Regions from separate parts of the Homo sapiens genome. Here regions 1 and 3 are each linked to region 2. Evidence: fine-mapped expression QTL. A gene starts in region 2. Each other region holds a variant in brackets. All regions are shown on one strand. Distances are from middle to middle. Region 1 has its middle 24 kb from the start of SLC20A1-DT. Region 2 holds the start of SLC20A1 (solute carrier family 20 member 1). Region 3 has its middle 12 kb from the start of NT5DC4.

The links.
Region 1: its variant is fine-mapped to the expression of SLC20A1 in whole blood (INTERVAL, PIP above 0.99).
Region 3: its variant is fine-mapped to the expression of SLC20A1 in whole blood (TOPMed, PIP above 0.99).

Annotation. Positions count from the first base shown.
Region 1 is chr2:112,617,629-112,623,654 of GRCh38, forward strand. It overlaps the pseudogene RPS20P11. Among named protein-coding and RNA genes, the nearest start is that of SLC20A1-DT, 24 kb to the right of the region's middle. The variant C/CTT (reference allele first, on the strand shown) is at 2,995.
Region 2 is chr2:112,642,505-112,648,530 of GRCh38, forward strand. It overlaps SLC20A1 (solute carrier family 20 member 1), which reads left to right and starts at 3,435. Exons shown (of 11, transcript NM_005415.5): 1 at 3,435-3,625; 2 at 4,059-4,658; 3 at 4,820-4,960; 4 at 5,149-5,234. The coding sequence starts at 4,325. It overlaps SLC20A1-DT (SLC20A1 divergent transcript), which reads right to left and starts at 1,676. Exons shown (of 5, transcript NR_033871.1): 1 at 1,595-1,676; 2 at 1,455-1,511; 3 at 675-789. RefSeq lists an enhancer at 1-457 and silencers at 3,097-3,926, 4,388-4,682.
Region 3 is chr2:112,705,507-112,711,532 of GRCh38, forward strand. No RefSeq gene overlaps it. Among named protein-coding and RNA genes, the nearest start is that of NT5DC4, 12 kb to the right of the region's middle. RefSeq lists an enhancer at 2,867-3,046. The variant G/A (reference allele first, on the strand shown) is at 2,897.

The sequences.
Region 1 (6,026 bases), 25 kb before region 2:
GCAGTCCTCACTCAGTCTAATACACACCATATGGCTGAGTTTATTCCTAAGCAGTGCAGCTTTGTGTGTGTGTGCGTGTGTGTGTTTGCAACTTGTGCCATCTAGAACATCTTCCACTCCCTCACATAGTGTGCCATGCCGGGACCACTTTGGGAGTCGTCACTTCATACTCATGATCAATATCATCAGTATCTATAATTGCCCAGATCCAGGAAGCATAACTGGACAGTAAAAGCAGCATCAGGTTAGGCTGGGCATGGTGGCTTATACCTGTATTCCCAGCATTTTGGGAGGCCGAGGCAGGTGGATCACGAGGTCAGGAGATCAAGACCATCCTGGCTAACATGGAGAAACCCCGTCTCTACCAAAAATACCTAAAATTTAGCCGGGTATGGTGGCAAACGCCTATAGTCCCAGCTACAGTCCCAGCTACTCGGAGGCTGAGGCAGGAGAATCTCTAGAACCAGGAAGGCGGAGGTTGCAGTGAGCCAAGATTGTGCCACTGCACTCCAGCCTGGGCGACAGAGCAAGACCCCGTGTCAAAAAAAAAAAAAAAAAAATGCTGGGCGCTGTGGCTCACACCTGTAATACCAGCACTTTGGGAGGCCAAGGTGGGTGGATCACCTGAGGTCAGGAGTTTGTGACCAGCCCGGCCGATATGGTGAAACCCCGTCTCTACTAAAAATACAAAAATTAGCCGGGCGTGGTGGTGGGCGCCTGTAGTCTCAGCTACTCAGGAGGCTGAGGCAGGAGAATTGCTTGAACCCAGGAGGCGGAGGTTGCAGTGAGCTGAGATTGCGCCACTGCACTCCAGCCTGGCGACAGAGTGAGATTCCGTCTCAAAAAAAAAAAAAAAAGAAAAAAGCAGCATAGTTTGGTTTCCCCAGGGGTGAGCGTGGGAGGGAAAGGAGGAATGAAGAAGGAGAGTATATTGTGTTGGTTTGGGTCTCTTACAGACAGTCTGGGCCTCCTCCCCGACTCCTCAAACTCACACAGATTCTATTTAAAAAGGAAGTTCCCTTTTGGGGTATTGGCACATTTAGAATCCATATTGTCTGTTTTAAGTGTGTACTCTACTGAGAATTGAGCTTTGGTTCTCTATGTACCCTTTTTAGCTTCTCCTTTAAGCATCCATCTCTCTCTCTCTCTTTTTTTTTTTTTTTTTTTTTTTTGACACCGGGTCCCATTCTGTCGCCCAGGCTGGAATGCAGTGGTTCAATCACGGCTTACCCTGCAGCCTCAACCTCCTGGGCCCAGGTGATCCTCTCACCTCAGCCTTCCCAGTAGCTGAGACCACAGGGGTGTACCACCACACCCGGATAATTTTTTGTATTTTATGTAGAGACAGAGTTTCACCATGTTGCCCAGGCTGGTCTCAAGCGATCCACCTGCCTCAGCCTCCCAAAGTATTGGGGATACAGGTGTGGGCCATGGCGCCCAGCCTCATTCCATCCTTTTATGGCATCTATTGCCTGTGGGTGATGAGGGTCCTGAGATGTCCTGGCAATGTCCAAGGTGGTTGGCCAGTGTTGGGTACTCTTGACTATAAATGCGCATCATTTGATGAGATACATTCAGGGAATCTCAGTATGTAACACAGGTCATCTGCGAGTCCCTAAATTTATGTTACATCTACCTCCTATCTGTGGTAAGGACCTACATTGCCATGCCATACCCAGAAAGGTGCCTACTGTAGGAAATGCTTAATTGCATCCCCAAGTGGAGCATTTAGGAGGTTATGTAGCCTATTTGCCAGGACTGGCCAGAATCTGGTGTCCTGAGTTTATATGTGCCCTGGAGTTTTCTTTGCCCCTTGACTGACAGGCTCATTTACCAGACTTCGGTGGCTTCCTGTGCTGGAGTCATTCATCTTTGCTTTGGGTCCCAGTCCTGCACTGTAGACAGAATGTCGTGGCCTCTGTGATGATGTATTCAGTTGTCCTTACCTGGAAGGCACAAGTCTGATTGGGTTTTGAATTCCACTCATGCTATTTCTATGGACATCCACATCCATAAAACAGAGGGCAGTGGTGTAGTATTAATAAAATCTGAGGCTGGGTGCGGTGGCTCATGCCTGTAATCCCAGCATGGGAGGCTGAGGCGGTGGATCACTTGAGGTCAGGAGTTCGAAACCAGCCTGGTCAACATGGCAAAAATCTCATCTCTAATAAAAAAAAAAAAAAATAGCCAGGCATGGTGGATCACCTGAGGTCAGGAGTTCAAGACCAGCCTGGTCAACATGGCAAAACCCCGTCTCTACTAAAAATACAAAAAAAAAAAAAAATTAGCCAGGCACGGTGGTGCAAGCCTATAATCCCAGTTACTTGGGAGGCTGAGGCAACAGAATCACTTGAACCTGGGAAATGGAGGCTGCAGTGAGCTGAGATCGTACCACTGCACTCCAGCCTGGGCAACAGAGGGAGACTCCATCTCAGAAAAAAAAAAAAAAGTCTGATACCATAATGTTCACTGCCATAGGGATTGAGACTTGATCATTTAGTCTTGCTTCCAGGCACAGGCCCGCACTGCCAGCCCATTGGCTACCGTCTCTAAATCAATGAAAAAGCAGCAAGGAGCATTTTGGAGGGGTTTTTCAGGAAAACCACCACTGTCCCCAACTCTGTCCACTGGGTAGTACCTTTTTTTTGTGTGCAAAATTTTAAACAGCTTTTGTTTTCCCCTGTGGCTGCACAGCTGCAAGGGCCAAGAACAATCCGCCAGCCTGTAACTTAGCGGGCTCCATCTGTGAACCAGCTTCAGGCATCCTCAGGGACTTGGTGTATCAATGCCTCCATGAAGCTGGAGGTGCTGGCACAAAATGTTCCTCTGGGATCAAGGGATGTCTGGCCATCTTGTAATGCCATTATGTGACTCTTTTGATGCCTGATGACCCCATTCTACAGAGTAGCCAGTCACTGGCACTTGTAGCTGAAAAGGATCATTAGAGCTAACTGGCCTGAGCAGAGTGCAGTCTGTACAGTCTGCCGGACACTG[C/CTT]TTTTTTTTTTTTTTTTTTAAGATGGAGTCTCACTCTGATGCCAGGCTGGAGTGCAGGGACTTGATCTTGGCTCACTGCAACCTCCACCTCCCGGGTTCAAGCGATTCTCCTGCCTCAGCCTCCCGAGTAGCTGGGACTACAGGCACACGCCACAATGCCCAGCTAATTTTTGTATTTTTAATAGAGATGAGGTTTCACCATGTGGCCCAGGATGATCTTGATCTCTTGACCTCGTGATCTGCCCGCCTCGGCCTCCCAAAGTGCTGCGATTACAGGCATGAGCCACTGTGCCTGGCCTGGACACTGTTCTTAAGCACGCTGGACCCTGCCAGCTCTTTTCCTCAGTGCAGTGGTCTTTTCCCCGCCTGTACTGCTTCACCCACACCACATGGCTGGGCTCAGGGAGCCCAGTGGGTCCTGGATGTGCTCTCATCCCACTAATGCTGTTCTCACTGTAGCATTTTTCCAAAGGCAACATCACTTGCCATTATGGACAGAAGTATTACATATCCTTAGAACAGGCTGTGTGTCCCTACACTGGGAAGGGTGCATGACCTTGGGTAAGACTGTTCCTGTGGGCCAAGGACATTCTTGGAAGAGGTTTCACCTGTGAATCATTAGCAGTCCATACTCTAGCAGCTCATGGAATCACTGCTTAGGTCCTGATGGGAAATTCTGAGAGGTATCCAAAGGTTCACTACACATTGTAAAGTCGTAGATGTGGAGCCCACACTGCCACCATAATTAAGGCTGCGGCAGGTCTTTCCACTACCTTCTGTGAAGCTGCCTGCTGCTAGGAGATGTGGCATGTAGTAAGCAGGAACTCCATAGCCATGGCCCATAGCTTAACATCTTTTATCATGAAAACATGCCCATGGACAAATAATTTGTATGTAAGACATCATTGCAATTGAATAAGCATTTGTAAATCTATGAATATATGGTGCTGGAGGAAGTGCTGTGGGCGGGATAAGCAAACCCATGAATATGTTTGTGTTAATCCACCTTCATTCTCCACCAACATTTGCCTCTTGCACTGACCAAATAGGTGAGGTAATAATGGTGTTATGGAAATCAGTAGCCCTGCATCTTTCAAATCTTTATGGAACTAATTTCTGCAATGTCATCAGGCACAGAATTGTTTTTTTTTTAACAACTGGTAATCAATTTATTAAAATAGTTGACTTAAGCATCTGCAATGGTAACTTCCACCTCAACTCCTGGCTCAATACTGATGGAAGTAATCTGCTTAACAATCTCAGAAGGACTGTGCAAGTCAATGAGTCGCTTGTGAATTCTCATCTGGAAATGATCCCAGGTCTTAGAATCTTCACCACAAGTAGTTTTTCTTGTAGTGATTCTCAAAGTCTTGGCAGGCATTCGAACTGGTCCTTTCACTTTGAGATTCTTTTCCTTTGCGCCTCTGATTAAGTCATCACACACCTTTTCCAGGGATTTTACATTGCGGCTTGTTAGGGTGATTCGAATTTGGTGAATGGCCACCTCCGGCTCCACGGGTGTTTTCCGGTATCCTTAAAAGCCAAGGCTGCTGCGCGGCTTCCTGACCGACTTGTTCCTCGGCGAGAGTGAACAGCGGTAAGTCAGGAGCAGGAGCGTCTGAACGAGAAATCCTCAGCACCTACGACCGCGTCTTCCTCCACAGAATTGTTTTTAGGTTATTATCTTGGTTGTAGGTGGCCCTTTCAAGGATTCTAACTGGGCATTCCCACCATGACAGACCGCATTCCTCGGATAAGGACAGCAAGGCTGGCAAAATAGCCACACGGTGTGCCTGGGATCCTACCTGACCCACTGTGAGGTGGACTCTGGCCAAGACCTGTCTATCCCCTGACCTCCCTAAGCCTCTCTCCAATTGACCATAGAGATTCCAGGGATTAGGCTCAGATAATACCAGTATCTACACATGTGGCTTCCAGTAAAATGAGCACAGACTGAGATTACAGAACCCAATTCCTGGCCCTCTCTGCTGCTAAATATCTATCAGGAAAGATCCTCCCTGAGCTTGCTTACTCATCTGTAAGTTGGAGCCAAAAATGTTCTTTGGATCGTGTGTCATTTGTGCAGATGTGATAAGATTACACACGTCAAGTGCTTTACACATTGCCTAATAAGTACCATTCACCGTTTCTTCTGCAGAGTGTAAAGAGGAAGATAAATTATCTATTACTATTTAGCAGTATTTTAATAACTTTTATGCACTTTTAATTTATTTCCAAATTTTTTCTTTTCTTTTTTTTTTCTTTTCTTTTCTTTTTTTTTTTTTTTTTTTTCAGTAGAGACAGAGACTCTCTTTGCTGCCCAGGATGGAATGCAGTGGCAGTCATAGCTCACTGAAGGCTTGAACCTCTGGGCTCAAGTGATTTTCCTGCCTCAGCTTTCTGAGTAGCTGGGACTATAAGCATGCACCACCATGCCTTACTATTTCTTTTCTCTTTTCTTTTCTTTTTTTTTTTTTTTTTTTTGAGACGGAGTCTCGCTCTGTCACCCAGGCTGGAGTGCGGTGGCTTGATCTCGGCTCACTGCAACCTCCACTTCCCAGGTCCAAGTGATTCTCCTGCCTCAACCTCCCAAGCAGCTGGGACTACAGGCGTGTGCCACCATGCTCAGCTAATTTTTGTATTTTTAGTATATTGGTCAGGCTGGTCTTGAACTCCTGACCTCGTAATCCACCCACCTTTGCCTCCCAAAGTACTGGGATTACAGGGTGAGGCACCACGCCCAGCCACCTGGCTATTTCTTAAAAAAAATTTGTAGAGATGGGGTCTTGATATGTTGCCTAGGCTCAAATTTTGTCATCTTTTAGATAACAGGATTTGGGGCTGGGTGCAGTGGTTCACACCTGTAATCCCAGCACTTGGGGAGGCCTAGGTGGGCAGATCATGAGGTCAGGAGTTCGAGACCAGCCTGGCCAATATGGTGAAACTCTATCTCTACTAAAAATGCAAAAATTAGCCGGGCATGATGGCGGGCGCCTGTAATCCCAGCTACTCAAAAGGCTGAGGTGCGAGGA
Region 2 (6,026 bases):
GTTTCTCCATGTTGATAGGCTGGTCTCGAACTCCCGTCCTCAGGTGATCCACCCGCCTTGGCCTCCCAAAATGCTGGGATTACAAGCTTGAGCCACCATGTCCAGCTACAGGTATTATTATTACCTCATTCATCTGGGGATGGGGAGGGCATTGGTGGGTGGAGAGGAGCTGGTTCTCCTTTACTCCAAGGCTCCTACCTTCTCTTCCCTGGATGTTCTCGCCCCTGCTCCCATGCAAGTCCTCACAGACGGCCTCTGAAGCCGCCTTTGTTCCTGGTCTGGTTCCACAACGTTCCCATGCCCACTTGAGCTCCCTCTACTCCAAGTAGACTATTTCCAGGATGAGTACTTCAAGTACATCGAACAGTGACCTCAAATGCATTTCCTTGACTGTGCCTCTCTGAACTAAAAAGTGCAGAAATGTCATTGCTTCCTTCTTTTGTCTGGTCTTCCACAGGGCTAGGTTGGGATCCGGGGGGAGAGTAGCTTTCCTAGCTCTCAGCAGCTCAACTCCACCGAATTAGTGAACGATGGACATGTCCCCAAGAGGACTCTAAACCCACAGTCCCCAACATGGTGTTCTGCAGCATGCCACAGGTCATCTTGTTCTGTCCTCTCTGAGGGTGAGGTTGGAGAGGGACCCTAGGCTCACAGGCTCAGTGACAGTGACTCACCAAAGATCCTGTGGGCAGTCAGGGTCTGGGCCAGGCCAGTGAGCCCATTCATATGGCATGAGCCACAACACTGTTCCTCTTCCTCCGGCAGCAGCCCGTTTTGCGTGTCCCCTCACTATGAGCCGTGGGAGAAATTTGAAAGGGCTTGGATCAGAGGGCAGGGAGAAGAGGGTGGTCCTGACATCTGACACATACTTCATTTTAAACATGGGCTATGTATGACAGGCCTTCAGCTAGTTATTGAACAAAGAGAATAAGAGCCCTTTTACAAGGGCTTTACATATATTCATTCATTTGGTCCTCACAACAGCACTGTGAGTTAGAAGTCTCAATCTCACCCCTTTACAGATCAGGAAACTGAGGCAGATAATTTATTTGCCTATGGTCACAGGACTAGTGAGTGACAGAGCAGGTGGTTTGGTCTTACAGTCTATGTGTTTAACCACTACACCAAACCACCTCCCTAAGATGCTAGAGGGGGTTTGTGCCAATGCCTGGATTCTAAGAGATTAGATTCTCTTTAGGATCTCTGACCTGTTTCCTCAGCATTCAGAGATAAGGCCAGAAACAATGCCATTTGTGCACGAACTGACAACTGACGGTCCTCCTACCTCCTATTTCTATTTAAAAGGCACTGTAACTTCTTTCCACAGGCAGATCCCTACCTCTCCTCCCTTAGGGGAGGACGAAGGTGTCCCAGCCAAGGAAGATCCTGGTCTCCAAGGGCTGTACCCTACTGATCCGGAGGCAAAGCAGTGAGGGCCCACCCCAATTCCTCACCTCCCATTCTACTCTTCGGCAGAAGCATCTCAGTGTTGGAAAGATAAGGATTTCTTCCTAAAAAGGAAGGATTACACTATATCAGAGTCTGAAGATACAGTTTTCATTTGCAACGCAAGGGAATTCCTTTGAATCTCTACCTTATGATTTCCCTGCAAACCCACTCCGATGGGGCTGGAGAGTGCTCTCTCACTCAGATGAATCTCTCAGGGGTTGTCCAGCAGGTGTTTGCCAACTTGAAGAGCTACCTACTATCACAGACCTATAAAAGTACGCCTGTGGACAGACTGAAAACAAACAAACAAAACACACACACAAACACACAAAACAACCGCACACTGGGAGAAGTTCTAGGCAATTTCCTTGCAAATAACTGCTTTGAAAATTACTGTTTTAAATTGGCAGAACACTAAGGACTTTGAACAGATCATCCCTTTTACTCAATGTTTTCATAACCTTGAAGTGAAGGTGGAGGGAGCAGTACGTTTTAAGGTGCCAGGATTACACTACGGGGTCAGTGCTCCCGGATATGAACTTTCTTTTTCAGACCGACCTTGGGACCTACAGCTTTGTAAGTTACTCATACAACTCCATCAAATGTTACAGGTAGGTCAGAGGACATTCAGGTTGTTTAAGCCTCTATAAATGACTCAGGCAGCAACAATTTACAACGTCTTTGTTTCTGCTATGCAGTGCCCTCCTGCTAGAGATGGCAAAAATGTGGGGAGGGCTTCAGAGCATTCTAAGCCTGGTATTTCTGGCTGGAATTTTTAAATCTCACTACAATCCTGACAAGAGACCACGACCTTAATCTCCCACGGCATGACTGGTTAGTCTTGATCGTAAGCCATATAATCAACACCCAAATGTGCATAACACATCTAAATAATGTCAAAACTACACTATATACCACGCAGGGGACCAGAAATCAATCTTTACCTCAAAAGGATAAGCTTCCAGGATGCAATAACATCCCCTTCCACCCTTTTCTACACCCTAAAACAGTAATATTCACGGTAACAGCAAAGCGGAAATCAGCTTTTCCTGAACATGTACTGAATTCTAGTCACATTCACACACGTTAATTCATTTAATTCCAGCCACAAGGTAGGCAGCCTCTGTTAACATTTTACAATTGTGAGAACGCAGAGATCTGGGACTGGCTCAAGGTGACACACTGCAGCAAGGAGTCAGAATTTGAATCCGAAGCAGTGTCCTTCCCCCTCGCAACAGCTGCGGCGTTACAAACACAGGTCAGCCACGGAGAAATTAATGACCCACAGCCATCCTTGCAGCTCTGCGCCATAACTGGGGAGACAAGCTGGTTCCCGTGACTCTTCAGTCTGTTTTCACCCAAGTGCATGACTGCGGGAGCAAAGCGACCACGTGAGCATCCCCCCCCCACCCCCCCGCTTCCCCCAGGCGAGGGACAGTGCCAGGCCAAGGACAAGTCACAGGTGCAACAACGTGCCAGAACTGGATCCGGAGCCCCAGGGCGCAAGATCTCCCGCAGCGTCACCCGGCAGAGGGACGGGTGTGGCCACCGGGCGCGGCAGGTCCTGCGTGCGCTGAAAGTGCGGCTGGAGGCGCGGACGGCTTTCCGGAGCCCCGAGAGAGGAGCTAGGAATGACTTTGGTCGCAGCCTCTGTAACCCCGCATGACGGCCTCTAGGGGGACAGCGAGGTCCCCCTCGATCTCTGGCTGTAATCAGCCGGCGGGGCCAGACGGTGCCGAGACTCCAGGGCGAGGCCGCAGGGAGGGGGCTGTCCCGCCCCACGTGGACCGGCTCCCCGCTGGGGGCGTGGCCGCCGAAGCGGGCCGGGCCAATGAGCGCCACCGTCGGGCTCACCCGGCTGGGCACGCCGGGCCGAGGAGGGCTGCGTCATGCCGGGGGCGGGGCTTCGGGGCCGGCGCGAGGCGCGGCGGGGTCACGCGGGTCGCTGCGCGGGCTATAAGTAGGGGCCGGCGGGGTGCTCCGCTGGAGTGATGGCTGCCGGCGCTCTCTGCGTGGTTCTTCTTCTCGGCCGCTGAAACCCCCGCGGCTGCTTCCTGGGAAGGTCGTGAGTCCCGCTGAGCTGTCCCCGGTGCCGCCGACCCGGGCCGTGTGCCCGTGGCTCCAGCCGCTGTCGCCTCGATCTCCTCGTCTCCCGCTCCGCCCTCCCTTTTCCCTGGTGAGTAGTGGCGCCGCCTCGTAAAGGCTCTTTCTTCTCCCCGGGGCCGGGCGCGGACGCCGTGGCGCTGGAGGCGGACGCCGTGGGCGGCGCGGCTGGCTTCTCTCTTCGCCGCTGGCCGCCTCCACTCCGCCCGTCTGCCCGCCCGCGGGCCTTTTTGGCGGTCCCCGGGCGGCGCGCGCGGGAACGGCCCTTTTCCGATTTTCGCGCGGAGGGCGCGCGCGGGCTGGCAGCGCAGGGGCTGGGCTGGGCGCGCGCGGGCCGCGGAGGACCCGGAGCCACGTGCCTCTCCTTCTCGCGCGTCCTACTGGGGATGGGGGTCTGGAGTAGCCGGCAGAGGCTATTGCGGGACCCCGGGCGCGTGGGTAGAGCGGGGTGCCCCACTGGCCCCCCAGGGGCACGCAGCTATTGTTATTTCCCCCCTCCCCCGCAGGATGAACTTGCGTCCTTTCTCTTCTCCGCCATGGAATTCTGCTCCGTGCTTTTAGCCCTCCTGAGCCAAAGAAACCCCAGACAACAGATGCCCATACGCAGCGTATAGCAGTAACTCCCCAGCTCGGTTTCTGTGCCGTAGTTTACAGTATTTAATTTTATATAATATATATTATTTATTATAGCATTTTTGATACCTCATATTCTGTTTACACATCTTGAAAGGCGCTCAGTAGTTCTCTTACTAAACAACCACTACTCCAGAGAATGGCAACGCTGATTACCAGTACTACAGCTGCTACCGCCGCTTCTGGTCCTTTGGTGGACTACCTATGGATGCTCATCCTGGGCTTCATTATTGCATTTGTCTTGGCATTCTCCGTGGGAGCCAATGATGTAGCAAATTCTTTTGGTACAGCTGTGGGCTCAGGTGTAGTGACCCTGAAGCAAGCCTGCATCCTAGCTAGCATCTTTGAAACAGTGGGCTCTGTCTTACTGGGGGCCAAAGTGAGCGAAACCATCCGGAAGGGCTTGATTGACGTGGAGATGTACAACTCGACTCAAGGGCTGCTGATGGCCGGCTCAGTCAGTGCTATGTTTGGTAAGTTCTTTTTATGTTTTGTCCTCTTCGTGGTGGGTGAGCAAATTTGTATCATGGGTGGTTCCATTTTTGTGCATAACCTTTCCGATTAACCTTTCTGAATGTGCCACTTACATAATGGAATTTTGATATTTACTTAATAAAACTTTACTATGTTTCAGGTTCTGCTGTGTGGCAACTCGTGGCTTCGTTTTTGAAGCTCCCTATTTCTGGAACCCATTGTATTGTTGGTGCAACTATTGGTTTCTCCCTCGTGGCAAAGGGGCAGGAGGGTGTCAAGTGGTCTGAACTGATAAAAATTGGTATGTTTAATTCCAAACGGCTTCTTAATTTTCGTTTTCGTCATATGTTACCATGGCATTAGGTATGGGAGGATGTGTTCTAACGTCGAGGGACAGACCCAAGAATTTTGAACTCTTAAACATTTAAAGTGGTTTTTGGTTTCTGATTTTCATTATTTGATATTTTTTCTTAATGTGTTCTATTCCAGTGATGTCTTGGTTCGTGTCCCCACTGCTTTCTGGAATTATGTCTGGAATTTTATTCTTCCTGGTTCGTGCATTCATCCTCCATAAGGTAACCTTTCTCCCCCGTATGAAGACCTTTCATGGAGCACACCCAATCGATTTCAAACCCAGTGGTACTTTTGCAGATGTGATTGGTGTATAGGTATGCGGCCTTGGAAAATTTTAAAAAGCTCTTTGTTCTGTGCATTTCTTGTATGTTGTGGAGTTCTCTGAAAGCGAGTTTTTAATACTCAAGAGGGCAGTCAGGAAGGAAAAATTGAATACTATGATGTGCCAAGAAGTAGGAGAAACTGGGAGCAAAAAAATAAGGAAATTTATTTTGCGTGGTTTTGTGTAGCTGTATACACATTATTTGTTTAAACCACTGTTATATTCAGGCTAATATAATACGTAAACTTGGAGTTCAAGACAGTGTCCCCTGTGGCTTTTTTAACTAAGCTGCCAGTTAAATGGGTCTCTGCCGTGCTGATTATCATAACCAGTTTATAAGCTTCTAGATGAGGACTCTGCCTCCCATAGTGACTTGACTCCAATTTCTCAGAATAGTTGAAAAGAACCAGTTAAAGGTAGTTTTTGGCCCGCCCCCCAAAAAAACTTCAGGCAGCCATTTAATTTCCTGTCCATTTGAAAATCCCTTTTAAGTGACCCAGTTTGCATTTCTTTTATCAAGAAGTCTTGCTGGCTGCAAAATAAATGTTGACAAGGGATTATGTTGGCATAGGACTGAGTTACAGTGAGGATAAATGCATTTTTCTCAGGAAACAAAGTTGTCCTTTTTCTAAGGTGAATGGCTCTTAACAATCCATTGTAAGTTCTTAAAAGTGTTCCTAAACTGTAGAAA
Region 3 (6,026 bases), 63 kb after region 2:
TGTTTATTCCCATCTTCCCTAAATGTATTTAATCATGTCTTCTATTTGTTCCATGGAACTCTCGTAACTCCTTGTTGATCCCGGGTTCTGTGGAACTGACTCAGGGAGCCCAGGAGCCTGTGCTAGCCCATCTGCATATGGTTATTGCACCAATAGCTCAAGGAGGTAAGCAAGCAAAGTGTTCCAGATCAGTGACTGACACAGTGTCCTGTGCAAATGTGCTGTGAATACAGCATTTCTCCAGGGCATTTTGTATCTTTCTAGGGTGAGGCGAAGGCCTCCGAGGATGTGAGCTTCCCCTGAAAAAATTCACAGCAGATGACCAGTGATGCAGACCAACCTCGCCACCACTCATGCAAGAACATTCTATATTCATGACCTTTGCTTGTGAAACCCAGTGACCACTGTGGGCTCTAGGCTTATTTAGACATAAGCTTGGCTTGCACTCCAAATTCAATGCCTTCTAGAAATCCAAAGTACTCCTCAGAATTTCCACCATTTCCCTAGACACCATGCCCTCATGTTATCTCTGACTTTAGCTCCTGTTCCTATGGGTGCTGTCCTGGTTCCACGCCTCCAGATGGTAAAAATGTCAGCCCTTGAGATTTCTGCAAAGGGATCTCTTCACAGCAAGCATGTGGTGTATGGGAGGTTTGGAGCAGGAGTGGGCATGTGAAGAAGACAGAGGAGAGGTCTCGGCAGCCTATGGTATGGTAGGCAGCCCCATCTGTAGAGTCCCTGATCTTGGGGGCACCAGTGGCCTCCATCTCATCCAGTCCTGGCTTCCTTTGCACGTGTTGCTGCTCTCTTTCTGTCTCTTCCTTTCCTTCCCCTCTCTCCACCCCCTTTGCTGCAAAGACTCCTGACTCACGCAAGAGTTCAGCCCTATCTGCAGATCTCACCTTACTCAAAGGGGCTTATCAGGCCAGTGGTGAGGGAGTGTGGTCTGTACAACCACAGGAAGCGGGTTGGCCTGTTGGAGCATGAGCTCTTTTTTTGCTTTGTAGATCTTGGTATTTGTTCTTCTTGGATTTTCTAGTGCTTTCTGGAAACTCTGCTTTCTCAGGCTGTAGGAATGGGAATTCAGGGCATGTCCCAATGTGGGAGCAATGAAGGAAGCATAGACAGAGAGATATGTGATGTGCGTGAGAAAGGACAATTTTTAAAATTTTTAATGAGAACAAATTTCTTGGAAAAGATAATCTAAACAAAAGGAAAAAAAATCCAAGTTATAAGAAGAGTATACAGTGAAAAGCAAGCCTTCCTCCCCACTTTCAGTCCCTTAGTTCTTGTTCCTAAAATAGCCACTGTCACCAGCTTCTTATTGATCTTTTGGGAAATGTTTTATGTGTATATAAACAGAAATGTATATGTATTCTCCCCCAATAAAAAAAATAAATGATAGGCTGGACGCTGTTGCTCACGCCTATAATCCCAGCACTTTGGGAGACTGAGGTGGGTGGATCATTTGAGATCAGGAATTCGAGACCAGCTTGGCCAACATGATGAAACCCCGTTTCTACTAAAAATACAAAAATTAGCTGTGCATGGTGGCGGGTGCCTGTAATTCCAGCTACTCGAGAGGCTGAGGCAGTAGAATCGCTTGAACCTGGGACGTGGAGGTTACAGTGAGCTGAGATTGCGTCACTGCACTGCAGCCTGGGCGACAGAGTGAGACTCTGTCTCACAAAAACAAACAAACAAACAAACAATAAATAAATGGTAGCCTGTCATACATATAATTTTACTTTTGCCTTTTAAAAATTTAACAGCATATACCTTCACTATTTTACATGGAGCTACTTATAAATATATGTTCATAAACACACACAACACACGTATATTTTATTTTTTTCCTTTTATTGGCACAAAAGTCAAACCTAGGTGATCCTTCTCATCAGCCATTGGAGAAGGCTTCTAGGGCATGGGATTTTCCAGTATGAGGTGGTATTCTGGGTGCCAGAGATTCCTGACGTCAGATTTAGTGACGATGAACACTAAGCATCGTTTCCAACTGCTCATAGCTGTGGCAGATTGTATCCTTGTTCCCAGTTCTCTTCTGTCCACTCTGTAACAGGATCTGTCTGTATCACCCCAGGCCGCGGGACCTGGAGCACCTTCCCATGGGAGGAGTGTATTCCCTTGCTTCCTTGGCTTTAGGCTTGGAAGAGGGTGGGAGTTGTACACGCCAAGTCCAAGTCAAAGCTCTAAAGACCATTGTGGACTTCTGCTTTGTGTCTTTGTCCGTGACCATGAGGTTGGAGATAGGAGCTGGGCTGTTCCTTCAGCTTGGGTCTCAGACTAAGAAGACATGGAATAAAGCCACAGTTGACCCACATCTTTGAATGATGTGTGTGAGAAATAAACCGTGCTTGCTGTAATCCCCTAAAATTCTGGAGTTGTTGGTTACAGCAGCCTAACCTGGTGAAAGGTGACTCCTGCTAGGAGACAGTGTTGGCTGTGCTCAGTCACAAAGCACCAGACGGCTCTGAGGATCTGGTTCCTTGCTCGCAGTGTCCTCTGTTTGATCTGGATCAGCTGTCCGTTGATAAAGAAGCTGAGCTGTAATCACAGCACTTTGGGAGACCAAGGCAGGTGGATCACCTGAGGCCAGGAGTTTGATACCAGCCTGACCAACATGGTGAAGCCCCACCTCTGCTAAAAATACAAAATTAGCCAGGCGTGGCAGTGCATGCCTGTAATCGCAGCTACTTGGGAGGCTGAGGCAGGAGAATTACTTGAACCTAGGAGGTGGGGGTTACAGTGAGCTGAGGTCGCACCATTCCACTCCAGCCTGGGCAATGAGAGCGAAACTCTGTCTCAAAAAAAAAAAAAAAAAAGGAACCTCAGGTTGTTTTTACAGGAACCAAGATGTCCCACACTTAGGGACTTTTCT[G/A]TACTTTCTATATGATGTGGAAGTGCCAATAGCTGGGGATTTTCAGGAAGTTATTTGGCAATGCAAAACAAGAGTTCTAAATAATTTTCACTTCTAGAAATCAGCTCAAGATAATAATTAAAAATACACAGGGAGGTTCATGGTAGAGTTATTTGAAAAATTGGAAGCCACCTAAATGCCCCATTACAGGGCAACAGTGTATACACTATTCTATGTGATGGACATTATGAAGCCATTAAAAATCAAGTTGCTGAATATTTAATGACATAAAGGAGATGTTGGTTTTTAATATTGAATGAAACAAACAGGACACAGAACTGCATATGTATAACAGTCCTAATTTGCAGAACAAATTTAGGATTGTGCCGTTTATAATTTTATATATTTTTTTCACTTACACTTGTGAATAAACATTTCCCCTCAGTCGTCAAATAAGTAAATATGTATAAAAAGAAGACCAGGAAGGAAATAAGCAAAAATAGCGGTTATTTCTAGTAGAGAGCATTTCCTTTCCTGTACTTTCTATATTTTCTAAACATTCTACGATGAATGTGTACTACTTTTATAATAAAAAAAAGTGGCTGCTACTTAAAAATGAGAATTATTCCGGTCACCTCTAGGGCTGTGCCTTTGTGCTGTGCTTACCCAGGGGCCTTAACTGGGGCTCCTCGTCTAAGAATAAGCCTGTGTGTTTAATTAGGTCACTCTCCTGCCGACCTAGAATCTCCGCACAGGGCTTAGCTTGTGCTGCCCAGAACCCCCCAGGAGCCGCCCTCCGAGGGAACTCTCAGCTTCTCACAGACAGGCACTGCTTCTGCCTGCTGAGTGTGAATTTGAGACTTCTGTGAACTGTCACTCCTACAGAGCTGCCACTCTCAGGTCTCTCCAACCTATCTTCTTTAAAAATCAATTCAGACGGCCGGGCGCAGTGGCTCCCGCCTATAATCCCAGCACTTTGGGAGGTCAAGGCGGGCGGATCACTTGAGGTACAGAGTTCGAGACCAGCCTGGCCAACATGGTGAAACCCCGTCTCTACTTAAAAATACAAAAATTATCTGGGTGTGGTGGTATGCACCTGTAATCTCAGCTACTCGGGAGGCTGAGGCAGGAGAATCGCTTGAACCCAGGAGGCAGAGGTGGCGGTGAGCCGAGATCGTGCCACTGCACTCCAGTCTGGGTGACAGAACGAGACTCTGACTCAAAAAAAAAAATCAATTCAGACATAACTTATTGAAGAGAAAATGAAGACGGGAACATTTTAACCATTTTGGATGATGATAATTCATTAATTCAATAATGAACAATAGCTGCGGTGCCAGGCAGCTACTGTTCATTGTTTCCTATGGCCTTCCCTGTATGTCCTGTGTCACATGCATTCAGGCTCTGGAGTGACTGGTGTGTGGACAGAGGGAGAGGGAGAGTTCTCAGAAGTCAAGCTGGTGTGACAGCTGGAAAAGCCGCCTGGGAAGGAGCTCATCCCAAGGGCAAAAGGAGCTTGGCACAACCAGCTTGACCCAATAGAGAGGCCTTCAGTAGAGACTTCCTGGTCTGCTTCCCCACGTGCTGTTTCACTCACATCTTTATCCAGGTCTGGCCCTTGTGAGGGTGTGCAGTGTGCGGTGTGGGGTGCTGTGCGGTGTGGTGTGCATGTCTGAGTGTGAGTGAGTGAGAGTCCAGGGTCTAGTGTCCACGGGGGAAGCTGCAATGGAGTCAGGGAGCAGAATTGGGGACAGTTGGAGAAGGGGCAGCTGGGACTGGCAGCCTCATAGGGCAGAGTCTGTGAAAAAATAGTACAGCCCCATCCACTTTCAAAAATAGTCTTCTGTAACTGTTTTAGAATAACCCATGTGAACTGTTGGTGACACCTTGGACCTTGTCATCTCCCAGGCTGCTCCACATCTGAAACCTTACATTTTATCATCTTTCATGGTTTTAAATTCAGGTAGGAGGTACATACAGTGATGTACATGAATTCCTATGCCCACTGCTGGGTCTGTAAGATTCACGCATGTTATTGTGGGTAGCATGTTTGGTTTTTCTTCATTGCTGATTCCACTGGGTCGACACGTCACCATTTATTGACCCATTCTGGAACTGTTGAACATTTGGGTTGTTTTCAGTTTGCGACGATGTTGGATAAAGATGATGTGGCATTTTGCACACGTCTTTTGGTGGACACAAACCATTGTCTTTTTTTGCTTGCTTGTTTTGGGATGGTGTCTCACTCTGTCATCCAGGCTGGAGTGCAGTGGCAGGATCTCGGCTCACTGCAAACTCCACCGCCTGGCTTCAAGCGATTCTTCTGCCTCAGCCTCCTGAATAGGTGGGACTACAGGTGCCTGCCACCATGCCTGTCTAATTTTTGTATTTTAGTAGAGACAGGTTTTCACCATATTGTCCAGGCTGGTCTCAAACTCCTGACCTCAAGTGATCCGCCTGCCTCAGCCTCCCAAAGTGCTGGGGTTATAGGTATAAGCCACCGCAACCGTCCCACACCATTGTCTTTTAACCCACTTTCCTTCCTGTGGCCTCTTTGCTGCTCATTGAGACTCTGGTCCTTCAGCCCTGCTGGGTTTCTTGCCCATCAGTCTGGCTACTTGCCCTGAAGTCATTTCTTTCTTGGCTAAGACTCCTGCAAGGGTTGTCTTTCATAGGCTGTTCCCACGTCTGCACCCTCCTCTCCCTCCTGACTCCTGCCCTATCTCACCACTGACATCTCATCGGCCAGCCAAGGCCTCCTCTGACCTATTGCCTAGTGTAGGGGGCACTGGGGCCTTCTCTCCTTCTGCCTTTCTGCAGCACAGTGCCTGCTCCAGGGGCTTGGGCCAGCCTTTCTCTTCCTCCTCTTCCGCTCCTCTGCCTGCTTCCTCTTGGTCTTCTCTGCTGGGTCCTCTCCTGTCTCCATCCTACCTGGTTGTTCCCGGGGCTCCGTTCTTGCCTCTCTTTCTGTCCCTCTCCAAGGGTCCTGGTGCTCGATCTTTAGCTGCCATAGATGCCGATGCAACATCTCTCATCCTTGCTCCCTAGGTCCAAAAATCTAGGGGGTTTTCCAAACTCATTTGATGGAAAACCTTGATAGGCCTGGACAGGAGGTTATTTGCTGTCCCTATGTAGCCACTTCGTGTGAATG